Linked DNA regions of Homo sapiens: region 2 is linked to region 1. A link means that fine-mapping ties the variant in region 1 to the expression of a gene that starts in the linked region. Tissue or cell type: blood mononuclear cells. Region 1 holds a variant in brackets; the other region holds the start of a gene. All regions are shown on one strand. Distances are from middle to middle.

Evidence for each region.
Region 2: SMYD2 starts here. The variant in region 1 is fine-mapped to the expression of SMYD2 in blood mononuclear cells (TOPMed, PIP above 0.99). The same link has a PIP of 0.9 or more in whole blood.

What each region holds. Positions count from the first base shown.
Region 1 is chr1:214,319,358-214,327,693 of GRCh38, forward strand. SMYD2 (SET and MYND domain containing 2) reads left to right here. Exons shown (of 12, transcript NM_020197.3): 6 at 5,284-5,351; 7 at 8,265-8,336. Among named protein-coding and RNA genes, the nearest start is that of SMYD2, 42 kb to the left of the region's middle. The variant G/A (reference allele first, on the strand shown) is at 4,380.
Region 2 is chr1:214,277,087-214,285,422 of GRCh38, forward strand. It overlaps SMYD2 (SET and MYND domain containing 2), which reads left to right and starts at 4,073. Exons shown (of 12, transcript NM_020197.3): 1 at 4,073-4,341. The coding sequence starts at 4,169. It overlaps LOC124904509 (a long non-coding RNA gene), which reads right to left and starts at 3,950. Exons shown (of 2, transcript XR_007066876.1): 1 at 1,628-3,950. RefSeq lists an enhancer at 3,028-3,593 and silencers at 3,873-4,162, 4,183-4,302, 4,333-4,492.

The DNA.
Region 1 (8,336 bases):
TCTATCTGTAGTGTTTTTTCACTCTAACCAAGGCTGCACTGATAGGAGGGCCCTTTGTGATGGCCCGAGGAAGGACAGTCACTGCCGAGAGGAGCCCAAGTGGGTCTAGATGTGGAAGTCTTTCCTGATGGTGGCTAAGAAATCTTGTTTAGAGAAGTCTAGGTTTACCAAAATCAGATCTAAGGAAATCTTAGGCTTCTAAGCAAGAGCAATTTGAAAGTGATTACAGCTTTGGAAACTAGGCCACTGGCAAGGCAAGCCTTGGGCATTGTTAGGACGAGAGAACAAAGGGTGCAGTGGCCATGCCTCGGGGAACACACAACCTTCCTGTTATCGTGAGGGTGGCTCTTCCTGGCCTGACTTACTAGATTGGATTTCTCTCTCATATGCCTTTGCGATGCCCTCTACAAACTGGGCATCTAGTTTAAAGTGACCTTCCCAGGTAGAGAAATATTAGAATTCTGCTCCATGGGAGCAAGAAGCTACATCAGTCTCCGGATGTGTAAAAGAGATGAAGTGGACACCTCCATGGTTTTGTCTTAGAATAGAATAAGCATTACCTAATGTACCCTTTGCCCAGTAACTCTGTTTGCAGGAATCTGTCCTAAGGATATAATCAGAAATCATGGACAGAGATTTACGTACAAATTGTTTATTGTAGGATTCTTTTAAAAGCCAAAGGCAGAAAAGAAAGAAGGAAGGAGGAAAGGAGAGGAGGAAGGGAAGAAGAAAAGGAAAGAGGAAAAGGAAATACTATAAATGGCCAGTAGTGGGAGTTTGGTTACATAAATTATGGCATCTCCATGTGATGGAAGGTTACATAACCTTTATAAGTTACGTTTCACGACTGTCTAAACTTGGGAAATGCTGATGACATAACATTAAGTATCAAAGCAGTATGAAAAGTATGAAAAAAGGGTATAATACGAAAACACACATACATAACGTAAAGATTAAGTGGAAGTTCACAGTTGTCTTCCGAGTTGTGGAAAAATTTAGGCTTTTTACTGGGTGACTTTCTGGATTTTCTACAGTGAGCATGTATAACTTACAAAAAGCATGCTAAGAAGGAGAAAAAGGCAAAAAGCACACACTTTAAAAATTACACACATAAAGAAAGTGGCCAGGCACCATGGCGTGTGTCTGTAGTCCCAGCTACTCAGGAGGCTGAGGTAGGAGGATCACTTGAGCCCAAGAGTTCGAGGCTGCAGTAAGCTGTGATCAAACCACTGCACTTCAGCCTAGGCAACAGAGAGAGACCCTGTCTATAAAGAAAAAAAGTGAGTCATTCATCACTTCTGCCCACTTCAGCTTCCCCCCAACTGTGAACAACTATTAACAATTTATTGAATTCTTTTATAAACTTTATTTAGATATATTTCAGTTATGTGACTGTCATAATCAGAAAAATATGCGATTCCTTGTAGGTGAAAAGGTGGCTTCAAGTTTTGAGTGTTAAGGTAGAAGGAATAAAAGACCTTTCTAATTTTCATATTATCCTGGGTTTAAATTGTACTTACCTAAGTATCCTGAGACAATAGATTTGGCTGACAATGGGAAGTGAGGAATCAACTTCTCTTACATTTTCTGAAAAAATGAATACATAATTTTTTCTGGATTAGTTTATATATGAGAAAGCAGAGAGATGAAATAAACATAAAGTATCTACTTTTCTGGCTATGGAAAAAGATAGCTTTTCCTCTAACACAGTGATGCATGCTTATAGGACTTCTCAATGTTGATGCCGTAGTTACAGGACCATATTTTCATAACCAAAAATCAAGTGACTCCATCTCACAAGTAGAAGTATATTTGTGGTGAAAGTGACTGACTCTTTGAAATATGGACTGACTCAGAAAATTCAGAACATTTATATACCTTAAAAAATGTATATATATATACACACACATATGCATACACACATACACGTAACTATAGAGAATTAATTCCTTTATTGACTTTATCAAATAAGTATACATTTTGAGATTACATGTGAATACAAATAAGTATACATTTTGAGATTATTTGTGTTCACACAAATACACACACATATAATTTTTTCATATGTAAATTTGAAAGGGGACATTTACTATCCCCAAAGAAAACTCCAAAGCAGAAATGCAAAGTGCTGCTGCAGCCACATGCCACCGGTCCCACCTCTCAGCCAGCAGCTACGTGTCTGCTGTTCCAGCCCCTGAGCCCTTTCCACCGTCTGGTCCATGGGAGGCTGTTGTGGGTTACCTCGAGACCTGGCAGCAGCTGGCAGCAGAAGGTGACCACACATCTTTGACAGCATCGAGGTGTGTTCTAATCACTGGGAACATATGCATGATTGGGAAGTGTATTTTTGGTGTGCAGCCTACATCTAGTCTAAATGCTAATTATGAGAATAGCTTTTGCAAGGTTCTTACACCTGATTTGACTTCAGAAAAAAGACTGTGGACCATGCATGTTTCTTAACATGCAAGTTCACTTTTCTTCTCTAGGGATATTTCAGAAGGGAAGGAAAGCTGGCAGGAAAATTGCTATGTAAGTAGGCTTAAACACCATCACAAAAGGAACAGTAATGACTCTTAGGCTCATGGGAGCCTTAGCTCTTGAAGAAACACAAGCAGTCTTCCACAGTAAGAGGAGCCGGGAAGGGAATAAAGGGACTGATGGTCATAAAGTGATCGAGTCTGACTGGTCTAAGTGGGCTTGCTGCAGAGGAGGGACTGAAAAAGCAGAGAAACAAGAATCTCATCCCCAAAGTAGTCAGAAGCTGTCTGTCCCTAGATCAGTTTTGAAAAGTGTTGCAAATTTTTCTGATTCATTGTTTCATTCTGAAAACATTTGTACCAGAAACTGCTGAGGCGTGGTAGTACTCAGTCTGAGATGATACATAGATCATTTAGAACCCAGTATAATACCGGATACAGGTCATGCTCCGGTAATTTTGTTGAATGAATGAAAACTTTAATTTACTCTTACCTAATGTTGGTTGATGGTCATTGGTTAATGGTTGTTAGTCAATGTCTGTGTGACAGAATTGGTCAGGGTACTTAGAGTTGGCACAAAAAATAATATGCCAAGTCTTCTACTTACACATGCCCAACCCCTCAGGATTTTAAAGCCTATGTATTATTTTACTAATCCACAGTACCCTCCCATTTTCTGCTTTTTGTGTTGAATTGTAAATACTGCAAGTCAAACCCATCATATAGCTCTTATTGCTTTGTATACCAAGATTTTCAAGCCCCTGCGTTTGGCCCTTTAATGTTAAGCAAAATAACCACATTAGCATTTAGTAGATCTGACCAATTTTAGAAGGAACATGGTATAGTGTGAAGAAACCAGAGTTGCTGTTCAGAATGCCTAGTCTGAATTCTGGCTCCTGTTCTGCCACTTATCATTTACATATCCTTGAGCAAGTCACTTAATCATTGAACCTTCCTGAGCCTCAATTTTCACATCTGTAAAATGAGTTGCTGTAGTAATGCTATAGTGATATTGCGGATTTATGGGATGGTAAATCTGAAGTACCTAGCACAGTGCCTGGCCCAGAGTGAGTGCTCAGAGGATGCTAGTTTTACAAAGCCCATCTGTTGGCCTGAATTGTAACAGTGCAGTGTCCCCAAGTGCAGAAGAGAGTGGGGTGGAATCGTTCAGTGTGAGTGCCTCACGGACAGAGACTTCATAGCAGCGTGGGACAAGCAGGGGTCTCAGCCTTTGTCACCAAGTATCTTTGTGACTGTGGACAAATCATTGTTCCTCTCTGACTTCAGTTTCGTCCTCTAAAAAGTAGAGTCTTAGTTTTCTTCCAGTGCTGAAATTTTAGAGACATGAAGATCACCTACCGAATTGTCTCCTAATAGTCTGATTTTCTTTGAGGCCACAAATTTTCAGCCTGTTTGTCTTTCTGTTTGTTTTTCTGTGCATGGTGCCCAGCATGTAAGGGCTCCCAGTACATATCTGTGGAAAGAATGAGTTTATAGAACAGTACATAAGTTAGGCATGTATAGTCCTCATTTTCAGCCTGCTTGTTCTAAGTTAGGCTTCCAGAATGGTGAAAGTTGCCCTTGGTATTTTTCTATGCAACATTTCTTTTTTTTTGAGATGGAGTCTCACACTGTCGTCCAGGCTGGAGTGCAGTGGTGTAATCTCGGCTTACTGCAACCTCCACCTCCCAGGTTCAAGTGATCTTCCTGCCTCAGCCTCCCGAGTAGATGGAACAGCTGGGATTACAGGTGCATGCCACCAGATCCAGCTAATTTTTGTATTTTTAGTAGAGACAGGGTTTTACCATGTTGGCCAGACTGGTCTTGAACTCCTGACCTCAGGTGATCTGCCCACCTTGGACTCCCAAAGTGCTGGGATTACAGGCGTGAGCCAGCGGGCCC[G/A]TACAACGTTTCTTTTAAAGGGTGAGAAGGTGGCCTGTAGGTGATTTGGCTGAGACTTGAAAGGCAAGGTCTCAGTGCCTTAGCTTTAAGCCCTCAATCCCTCTGCCTCCCTAACAGAGAGAGGGATAGCAGTTAGATTAGATGAATAAGGGCTTCATATTTACCACCTCACCTTATGAGATGAGCATTGGATTGATTCCTTTTTTTTGAGACAGAGTTTCGCTGTTGTTGCCCAGGCTGGAGTGCAATGGCACAATCTTGGCTTACTGCAGCCTCCGCCTCCTGGGTTCAAATGATTCTCCTGCCTCAGCCTCCCAAGTAGCTGGGATTACAGGCATGCGCCACCACGCCTGGATAATTTTGTATTTGTATTTTTTTTTAGTAGAGATGGGGTTTCTCCATGTTGGTCAGGCTGGTTTCGAACTCCCGACCTCAGGTGATCTGCCCGCCTCAGCTTCCTAAAGTGCTGAGATTACAGGCGTGAGCTACCACGCCCAGCCAGATTGATTCTTTTCTTTAAAGACACAGTGATTCAGTGATAGGCTTAAGATCATACAACAAAGCTGTAGCAGAATTGAGATTAGACTCCAGGTATCTTAACTCCCATGCAAGTGTGCAAACGTCAGTCCTCAGAGTCTTGGGGGTCTTTGGCGTGCCTGGACCACTGTATTTAGATGGTAGGTAGGCTACACTAAGGGATGCATCACAATTCTGCTTGTTTGTTTATGCATGGAACTGATAAGTAAATTTTGTTTGAACGATAACATGGGCAAAAGAAAGGGTTTAAAACCACTACACCAAAACATCTTCCTAATTTGTTAAAAGTCAAAATTTAAAAAAATGATCTCTACCCAGAAAGAAGCTCCAGCTCATTTTTTTCCTTTCTCCCTTTTTCTTGCTGCAGGTTAACTGTAATGGCTTCACAATTGAAGATGAAGAACTTTCTCATTTGGGATCAGCGATATTTCCTGAGTAGGCTGTGTTTGACTTCATTTCTTTCCTTTTTACTTACTTAACACTAATTTGATTTTTTTTTCATTTTTAAATAACCCACCTAACTGCATGTGGCAGACATGAAACTCAAAGTGAATTAAAACAGCTTTTTAATCTGCCAGATTTCAAAATATTTCCCCTACACTTAAGGATCCAAAGGTAGTAGTTAAGAGAACAGTTGCTTGTTAAGTCCTGCTAGGCAGAGAGCTGTTATTAAAGAATATTTTATAGCGCGCATAGAAGGAACAGCTCATGCCCTGCTGAGAAATTTGCTTTCTGCCTATCTGTGGTTCTGGAAATCTTTCCATTTCTTATGCTCAAAGTGAAACATTAATTGCCAACCAAGAATTGGCCACAAGCTTGAGTACAGACTATATGAGCTTCTTCTCCATCTGTCCTTTTTGATAAATACCAGTACAGAAACAGCACAATTTGGAGGGAGAATATGCTGAAGTAGTGGGCCGGATAAAAATTTCAAAGAACTGTAGGATTTTCTCTGGATTTGAAGAATACTTGAGTAATTCAGCAAAGGCTAGCCAGTTGACAAATGGAGATCTTTATAGATCTGACTTTAATGGATTGCCAAGAATGATTTTGCCTTTGTCTGTCTCATGGAGTGAGTATTTCCAAAATGCTTCAGTCCCTGAAATCAAACCCTTGCTTCACAGATAGAGCCAAGGAATTCATCATGCATCCCCCCAGCCTCCAAATTAATCCACATTGTAGATAAGTTCTATCCAGAGGGAGGTTGCTTAACATATACTGCAGGGGCCTTTGCCTGTAGGTTGCCACATAGGTAGGAAACCCTTAATACTCATGCATTTGCCCTGAGTGATGTGCCTGCCCTTAGCTATGTGCGTCTCTGCCAGACGCTGTGCGTTGTGTAGGTCAGAAAGAGAAGAATCCGTACAGTCTGTGTCTCGTGAGCAGCTGTCACAGGTTTACTTGAACCAGAGAGACTAAAAAGTTTGTTCATGTAATATTTGTCCTTGGGGCCAAAATGGCATCATCTGCAGTTGGAATTCTGGAAGTGAGGAAAGAAGCTTTTTTTTTTTTTTTTTTTTTTTAACTTTGGCCCCTGGGAAAAGGCAGGAGAAAAAGAGGGCATTGGACCCACTGAAGAAGGCGTGTATTGACACCTTTATAACTGAAATGAACTATGGAATGTCTCTGTTCTTAATATCTTAAAAGACTAAAAGATTAAGAGTAAGGTGCTGCCGGGCACGCCTTACAGGTGTGGTGGCTCACACCTATAATCCCAGCACTTTGGGAGGCCGAAGCGGGCAGATCACGAGGTCAGGAGTTGGAGACCAGCCTGACCAACATGGTGAAACCCCGTCTCTACTAAAAATACAAAAATTAGCTGGGCATGGTGGCGCACACCTGTAATCCCAGCTACTCAGGAGGCTGAGGCAGCAGAATCACTTGAACCCGGGAGGTGGAGGTTGCAGTGAGCTGAGATCGCGCCACTGCACTCCAGCCTGGACAACAAACCGAGACTCCATCTCAAAAAAAAAAAAAAAAAAAGAGTGAGGTGCTTTGAGGATTCTCACCTGTCAGTGGTTGCCAACAGAATTATGATACCAAGAACATGAATTGTTTTAGGGTCTTTGACTTAGTGCATTTCCCCCACCTTCATTAAAGAGATACCCGAGTCTGCCTTCAGCTATTTAATACTTCCGCAAGATGGTTTTAGAAATGTGCTTTTATTTTAATACAACTACCCTTCGATGCATTTGTTTATTTGATTTCCTAGGACCTGATTCCTTGGGCATCACTTTCCAGGAAGCCAAGTGGGCCTTGGTGCAGTGCAGAGGTGGCCCTCCCCGAGGTCAAGACCAGGAAGCTGCTACCTGTTTATCTCAGGCACCAGGCTAACCACATACTTTGCTTAGGCCTTTAGCAGCCAGGAGGTGGGGGAGTGCACTTGGCCATAGGCCATAGCCAGCCTGGGGCAGTTCATCCTCATCAGGCTTCGAAACCCCTTTCCCTTTTTGTATTCTCGGAGCAAGCAGGAGAGGGGCTGTGGTCTCTGGAGGGTCAGGGAGGTGACATTGGCCACCAGAGCAATGACACACATGGCTGTGAGTGCCCGTAGGAGCATGAGCCCCAGTTTCTGGGCAGTTTTAATTGGGGGAAAAAATCCCTTTGGGCTGAAATCATATCAGCATTGTGATTTCAAAGGCAGCATTTTCAGAGATCAAGCACTTTTTCCCTGTAGTTTAGAAATTTCTGTTCTCAGAACTTTGACCTTCATATAATCAGAAAGCTCAAAGCACCTCGCATAGGCGAATCTCTCTCTCTCCTTCTCGCTGTCCCTGAAAAGCAGACAGTGAGCAGCAGGAGCAGTAATGTCCCAATTTTCCAGATGAGGAAATTGAGGTGCAGAGAAACTCAGACGGGTGTCTCCGGGTCTCTCAGGGGATCACACACCCTTCCTCCCTTAGGAAGCTGGCATTTCTCAACATCTGAAAAAAACGTGAGAAATAATCCACTAATACAAAAAGCTGCTTGAAAGCGACAACGCACCTGTGTTTGACAGTGTATAGTGAAGTAGCAATTAGCTGTGGGTATTGGGTTCTGAGAGCTGCATTCTATCAGGGAGGAATATTTGTGGCATTTGTTGTTTTTGCTGTTGTGTGTTTTTTGGTTTTGGCTTAGATAGTACTTGAATTGTGGATTTCAGTTTTTAATATGGTGAAAGTGTGAGATGGTAGATAGGATTATCAGTGCATGCAGAACAACCTCTTAGAATGTGATAGCCAACTATTAGATTTTTAAAAAATGTCTTGCAAAGATTCAGTTCCTCTGACTTAGCAAGTAAGTAGTGAAGGAAGCTAAACAGTCTGCCTATCTCATTTTAAAAACTGGGTTTTCTCTTCTGACTGACAGTGTTGCATTGATGAATCATAGCTGTTGCCCCAATGTCATTGTGACCTACAAAGGGACCCTGGCAGAAGTCAG
Region 2 (8,336 bases), 42 kb before region 1:
GGGTATTGGCAAAGCCACACTCCCTCCCGAGGCTCTAGGGGAAAGGTGTTCCTTGCCTCTTCCAGCTCTGGTGGCTGCCAGCATTCCTTAGCCCATCACTGTATCCCTCTCATCACTGCCTCCATAGTCACATTGCTGCCTCCTCTCCTGTCTGTGTCAAATTTCCTTCTGTCCTTCATCAGAAAACTTGCAACTGCACAGAGAACCCACCTGGATGTTCCAGGATACTCTCACTCTCTCAAGATCCTTAAAACACATTTGCAAGACCCTTTGAAGCCATTTATAGATTCCAGGGATTGGAACCTAATATCTATGAGTGCCAACATTCAGCACTTCATAACTGTTTTCATGTATGTTGGTCTTTACACCTTGGTATGACTAGGATCTATCACAGTGTAAGTACATAGTATGTCCTCAATAAGTGACATGTAGACATAGATGCAGAACTATACAGCATCTAGGCCCTTTGCTCACGTTCACTGGGATACCTTCTTTGCTAAGGCTTCATTTCCCTAGGCCAGAGCTATTTCTTTCATGTGCTAATCTGTGGTTGGAAGGATCTTTTACTCATAAATTAGATCAACTTCTAGGTTAGAGAAATTAAGCAAAGGAGTTTTCGTCCTTGTACCACTTCTCCTGAGTTTCAGTGAGGCAAAGTAACCAAAAACACTCCTTTCAAATTCCATACCTCCTACGTTATGGAGCAGAGGGCGTAGGAAAAGTGGATGGGTCCTGGCTGCTCAAAGACTTCACGGAATGTGAGATTACAGAGTGGCAGAGTGACAAGTATGGGCTTCATGAAGAGCGCTGTCATCAGTCTCCCCGGGCTGGTTTATTGCCATTCTTTGGCTGTTTATTTTAAACACAGTTTTCTTAGTAATTTAAGCTCCTAAATTCATGGCTACTGCTTCAGTGACCATTTCCCCATCTCGAGTCATTTAAGTTCATCACAGGGATTTTTCTGAAATGAGGCGGTTTCTTTTCCAGTGTTCTCAAATCACAGTCACCTCCACCCTCAAGAATAAGCCAGCACTCATCTGGAAAGATAATTCGGTAGCTATGTAATTGCTTTTTTCTCAGCTGTGGAAATCTTTCCCAATTAAAGTGGAAAAAGTTACTTGCAATAAAAAAAGTAAACAGGTAGATTACTTTGCACAATTAATCATTGAAACAGTAAACTGTCTACTGTATTGTAATTGTTTACTTCTACGTCAGTCTTTTCATCTTTTTGCTGGTTAGAGCCCCCAGAAATCAGAATGAGATTCCATGACGTTTATTCAACCTTTAAATATTTTTTCCATTCTCTCTGTGTTCCAGGAGTAGTGATAAGAGCTGGTGATGTAAGGGTAACAAAAACAGACTCATTCCCTGCCCTCATGGAGCTTGTACAGTCTGGTGGAGGATGTAAACACTAATCAGGTCATCACACAGACAAATGCAAACTGTCAGTGGTCTCACATGCCAAGGCTGTTTATATACATGTAAACAGTTATGAAGTGCTGAATGTTGGCACCCCAGCCAACCCACAATGCTGCTGGCAGATCAGTCTAAAACACTGGACTCAATGTGCCACCCCTCACTTAAACGCTTTAACTGGCTCTCCCATGGCCTCTGGGGCAGAACTCACCTCTGGAGAAGATGCTCTTCAGCTGTTCCTGCCTCATTTCCTGTCCTCTCTTCCAGATGCTCAGGGGCCCCCAACTACAAGCTCTGTGCTTTCAGGGTCTTCTGTCTTTGTACGCAGTTCTCTCTGCCCAGAAAACTCTTCTCCCCACCTCCACTTGCAAAATCCTGTCCATCCTTCAGGCTCAGCTCTAACGTTACTTGAATGTGATGCCTGTCTTGACTGTTTAGCAGGCTAAAGCTGTCACTCCCTGCCTGTACTACCACAGAACATTTTGTACAAGCCACCATAACTGCACTTATCCCAGTGAACTGTGTTTGTTTGCAGCAAAACACTGTGGTTAGGAACATGGACCTTGAATTCAGACTGACTTGGAAACCAAATTCTGCAATTTATTGTGTGGCCTTGAAAATCATTCCTTCTGGGTCTTAGTTTCCTTCCTAATTTTGGCAATGAGGGGCATAATACCTAACTCATTAGCCTGTTGTAAAGATAAACCAGATAATGTGTTTAATGATGGAGCACGATGCCTGGTCAACAATACTCAATAACTAATGGTATTATCAAACTTGAATGTGCCAAATGCAAGGACCTAGGACTACATTTTGTCCACTTTTTTTTTTTTTTTTTTTTTGAGACAGAGTTTCGCTCTTCTTGCGCAGGCTGGAGTGCAATGGTGCGATTTTGGCTCACAGCAACCTCCACCTCCCAGGTTCAAGCGATTCTCCTGCCTCAGCCTCCCGAGTAGCTGGGATTACAGGCATGCACCACCACACCTGGCTAATTTTGTATTTTTAGTAGAGATGAGGTTTCTCCATGTTGGTCAGGCTGGTCTTGAACTCTCGACCTCAGGTGATCCGCCTACCTCGGCCTCCCAAAGTGCTGGGATTACAGGCGTGAGCCACCACAGCCGGCTGATGTCCATCTTTCTATCCCAGTTGCTGGCCATAGTCAGTCGAAGTTTCTTAAAATGCATAAATGAAAATACTATCATAACTTCCTTTACTTGAAGACGGGTTAGAGGCTTATTTAGTTTGCCACTAATAAGGGCTTTTTTGTTTTCTTTTGAGACAAGGTCCTGCTCTGTCACCCAGGCTGGAGTATAATGGAGTCACCACAGCTCACTGCAACCTTGACTTCCCAGGCTCAAGCTATCCTCCCACCTCAGCACCACTTGAGAGGTGGTTAATTTCCCATAGAGACGGGGTCTTTATGTTGCCCAAGCTGGTCTCCAACTCTCCAATTCCTGGGCTCAAATGATCCTCCCACCTTGGCCTCCCACAGTGTTGGGATTACAGGGCTGAGCCACCACACCCAGCTGATAAAGACATTTTACTGAAATGCCAAAAATTCCACTGATTTTACATCTCCAATCATATTAATCCTTTCCCTTTGCTCAACCAGTCCTGAACTTACACAGGTAACTGTTTGAGGTCCTATTTTGAAGTAGTGGTTTCTGCTAAATGATCTCGTCACAATTTTAGTCTTTACTGCATGTACATCAATTCCAGTCTTTACATAATCATGTGGAACACGGATTATATTTTCCTTTCTCATATGAAAAGTAATAGCGTGCATGTGTATAGGATTTACGTTTCAGGCTTTGTGGGCTTTAAATCCTTTGACTCCTAACCCAAGTGACTTTTCTAAGATCACAGTTCGTGGGTGGTCAAGCATATTAAAACTACTGCAAACTCTAGCGCAGTGTCCTGGACACTGGCCACAGCATCGCATTATCCCCCAACAGCCTAAATTCCTTGAAGGCAAGGTTCTCTCTGGCTTCCTCTGCAACGTTCGCAGCATGCCTCAGAGACTCGGTGAGCTGGGCCGGCCAATGCATTTCCTCTTCCGTCCATGTAATTCCACTAGAGGAGCAGAGGGCAAACTACGTTCCCATTAAAGCCACAAGGTTTAAAAACCTCTAACCTTGGAAAAGCACACTTCAACCCTCTGCACACCAAACTTCTCTACTGTGGTTTCCCCTCTGCCGCTTTCTCCTTGGCGTTCCCCGATCACTGCCTCTAGGGTCTTTACAAGGGACAGCGAACGTAAGGTTTCGGAGCTGGCTTCGCCCCCTTCTATTTACCGGGGGCTGGTCATCCTTCGGGCCAGGCTGACTGTCTAGGGGTGGCCCTCGGATACCTGGTCCCCGCAGGTGACCCCCCTCCCTCCCACCGAGGAGGAGGGCGCGTCCCGCTCGCTCCGTGGAGACGCCGCGGAGGCGCACACGCCTCACGCCTCCTCGCAGAAGCCACAGGGGCTGCGGCTCTTTGTCGCGGCCACACCGGAAACGGCCCGGAGCGCGCGCGGGGCGGCCGCCGAGGGTCGCGGCGCTAGGCGGGGCCGCCGGGCCCGTCCCCCTCCCCGCGGGGGCGCGCGAGGCCCGGGCGGGGCCGCCCTCCCTTCCGGGGAGCGGGGAGCCGCCGCCGCGTCCGCCGGGCGGCTCCCACCCCGCCCCCCGCAGCTCTAGGTGACGCGTCTCCAATAACAGCTCGCCGGGAGCCGCAGCTCGGGCACAGCCGGCGGCCGCGCCCCGCCGCCACCATGAGGGCCGAGGGCCTCGGCGGCCTGGAGCGCTTCTGCAGCCCGGGCAAAGGCCGGGGGCTGCGGGCTCTGCAGCCCTTCCAGGTGGGGGACTTGCTGTTCTCCTGCCCGGCCTATGCCTACGTGCTCACGGTCAACGAGCGGGGCAACCACTGCGAGTACTGCTTCACCAGGTAGGGCGGCGGCGGCGGCGGCGGCGGGCGGGAGCCGGGGGCGCCGAGCGGGAGGCTTGGACGGCGGCGCCAGGAAGTGCGTGCGGCTCGCGGGGTCCTAGCGCCGGCCCTTGGGGCGGGGTGGGGGGCGGGGAGGGGAGGAGGCCCCGCGCTGCGGCCCCGCGCTGCAGCCCCACGCCAGGCGCCACGTGCGAGAGGAAACAGGACCGGTGCCCCGCTGCACGCCCTGCACTGCACGTTTTCAGAGTTGCTCACGCTGGATGCGCAAACCCGGGCGTGCAGGTTCCTGCCCTCAAATGTGGGCTCCGAGCCAGGCTTGTTCCAAGCCTGGGCACTCACTGCCCTCCCGGTGCATTGGCAGCGGAGCCCCAAATTTGGGCAGCCACGGGCTGTCACCTTTAACTTATGCTTCCTGCGGTGTGTTCTGTTACCCACAGTCCAGCCCTGCCTCAGATTGGCCGTTTCTTCCAAGGAATTTAATGACTTAGTATATGTCTTGTAAAGTACGCTTACATGTTAAAGTACGCTTACATGGGTGTTTGGAGGGACGCCAGTGGGCACTGACCACACCCCCTGGATTCTGAGGTGCTGCGACGATGAGTTGCAGTGTCCAGTTTCGGTTTGGGATTAGGAAAACATGGTCGCAGGAAGGGATTGGGCAAGATGTGTGGTTGCTAATGGTATTTAATTGTAAGATACCATATGTATATATGTGTCTGTGTTTGTATATATGATGCATATACATTTGCACACACCAACACATAATTATATCCTCAACTCTTATGAGAGTTTCAGAGCTTAAAGGCACATTAGAAATCACCAATTCAGTCTTGTCTTTCACTTAATGGATGAGAAAACTAAAGCCCAGAGAGAAAGTGGAGTTACCTTTATCCATTCACACCAGTAGTGAAGGGAGTGAAATCTGGCCTTATTCACTTCTGCCTATTTCTCACTGGTTAGGTGCTCAGTAAATTTACTAAGGCAGGAGGCATGGCATTGGGGTTAAGTTTATATCAGGCCTTCCAGTACTCTGAGTAGAGACCATGATTTGCTTTCTTTGAACCTCAGTTTCTTCATCTTTGAAATGGAGATTCCTGGGCTGGATTAAGCTGACCTGCGGTCCTGCAGGGACCTTTTGAGTACAGGTCTCAAGTCCAGCATACTCAATCTCTCAGACCTGTGTGCCTCATTCTACAATAAGACGTAGCAAAAGAAGGGACAAAGGCTAAATATTGTAGTAATCTTGCCCAGACTCCCTGCCAGAACTGTCTTCCGCTTGGGGGGACCTGGAAAGGAACTAGACACGGAATCATGCCGTGGGCAGCTTAAGGGCTGTATGTGATGTGGCTCTTTGAATTGGTGAGCCAAGAGCTAAAGGGTCATGGCACCACTTTGCAACGTTTGAGTGAAGTGAGCATTGGGTTTTCCCAAAGTTAAAAAGGCTGCTGTGACTGGTCCCTTGATCTTCTGAGCCTTGCTGTGGCTCGGAGTCTGCAGCAGCGTGGGTGTCTGCAGTGGCAGGAGCAAAGCAGGTCAGGCAGCACAGAAGGAGCCTCCATCAGGGATCCTGGCAATTCCTGGAAGCCATCGCCTAAGACCATGGATGCCAGGCACATAGTAGGTGCTTACTTTATATGGGTAGTTGCCAGCCCTGGCCCCCAGTGAATGAAAGATCAAATCCCTCTGGATTTAGAAGGGATGAGAAGAACTGAGAGATGCTTCTCTTTAGCTTTAAGTCTCCTAATTGTATCTACTACGCATACCCCCAACCTTAGAACATTAATGGATGGTCAGATGCAAGTTCACAAAGCATTCAGCCTGGATTATTCTGCCATATGTGACAGTTTGCTGCCTCTTTTGTTGTTAAATTTTTCTGATTGACATTTATTAGTGTTACTCACTGTTGCCTTGGGTCCCTCACCAGGGCTGCAACTTGCAATGGGGTGTTATTACAACTTGCAAACCACTTCTCTGTTTGATTTCCCTGACCTTATGTCAATACCCGTAGTTTATTTCCTCTCTCTCCCCAAAGAATTATTTGAAGTCAATTAAAATAATACAAAAGAAATAATATCCATGATACTTATGCAATTAGAAATATCCTTGTACCCTACTTCATGATTTCTATTAAATCTGAATCATTTACTATTAGTGGTTAGGTCATCTGATAGATTCAGCATCAGTTCCTCTGTCAGCAATTTGTATATGACTTAGGACAAATCAGTCTGTCCAGATGTATGAGGGGAACGTGTATTTTCCTCCATAGGGCCTCAAAGTATAGGAGTAGAATTCTGGAAATGTTCATACTTACAGGTCAAAATCTGCTGCCTGCCCCAGCTCCACACACCCAAAAGAAAGCTACCCCTTATCCTTTCTTTTGCCAGAAGTTTAACATAAACAATACTGCTTAAGATAAATGAATGACCCAAGAATTTCCATGTCATACTAATTGTATCAGGATCTAACTTTTTTTGAAGAAAAGAAAAGTGATTTCTTTAGGTAGGAATAAGTATATGCTATAAATTGAGAAATAATGGAAAATGTCTTAAGTCTCAACAGAATGGGATTCTTACGGTCAGGGCAATTCAGACAAAGGTTTGCTTTGGGGAATTTTTAATTTGTATCACATTTCTCAGTCTGGTGGGTGCCATTGGAGAACATGCGTATCTTGCCTGAACTGCTAGAAGGCAGCTCCTAATAATATTATATAAAGTTTTTCCACTTGGAAGCTGTCCCTATCAGACTTCTCAGATACACTTTATACACACATACACACATAAATGCACACATACACATTTTGGCCATTTATCACCATTTTTTGGTGTGGTTTTTTTTTTTTTTTTTTTTTTTGAGACAGAGTTTCGCTCTTGTTGCCCAGGCTGGAGTGCAGTGGCGTGATCTCAGCTCACCACAACCTCCACCTCCCCGGTTCAAGCAATTCCTCTGCCTCAGCCTCCCGAGTAGCTGGGATTACAGGAATGCGTCACCACACCTGGCTAATTTTGTATTTTTAGTAGAGACAGGGTTTCTCCATGTTGGTCAGGCTGGTCTCAAACTCCCGGCCTCCCAAAGTGCTGGGATTACAGGCATGAGCCACTGCGCCGGGCCAAGTATGTTGTATTTTAAACTAAGTTTTAGACTTTTTTTTTTTTTTGAAACAGTCTCGTCTCACTCTGTTGCCCAGGCTGGAGTGCAGTGGCACGATCTTGGCTCACTGCAACCTCCGCCTCCCGGGTTCAAGTGATTTCCGACTAATTTTTGTATTTTTAGTAGAGACAGGGTTTCATCATGTTGGCCAGGCTGGTCTCGAACTCCTGACCTCAAGTGATCCACCCACCTCAGCCTCTCAAAGTGCTAGGATTACAGGCGTGAGCCACCGTGCCTGGCCTAGACATATTTTAACCCCCAATGTGATTTGTCTCAGAAGGAGAGAAATCTGCTTTAACCCAGTGTTCCATCTAAATATTCATTCTATGTGCCATTCTTCAGGTAGGCAGATCTTTTGATCTTTAGTCTCCCTTTTGATCTTTAGTTCTCTTGGCTCATGGGTTATTTAAGGATGAGATTATTGACATTTCTTTGTTTGTTCTGAGTGTAGGGGGAACCAGGAAAGCCCATTTAGCCTCCTTGGAATAGAGCTGTTAGAACCCAGTTTCAGTGAATTTCGGTCATGTCTGGCTTAGATTAGTTGTTTTAAAAATTAAATTGTTTGCCTGAGCCAAACCCTGTGATTAAGGTGTCCTATTTCAGCAGTTATAAAGGCTTTTTTTCCTCATGTCCCCCAGATTTATTCTCTAGCGTATTCATCTTAGCTTTCCTCTTGTTTTATCAAACCGGCAGAATAATTTTTAGTTGATCTTAATCAGTATTAAGGGCCATGAAATCCTGATGCTGTTTTCCTGAAGTTCTCTGAACTAGCCCTGGTTCTGGCTGCCTGAAGCTGTGCATGAGAAGGGGACCTTGTGCCCAGGACTGCTATGACTCTGGCTCTCCTG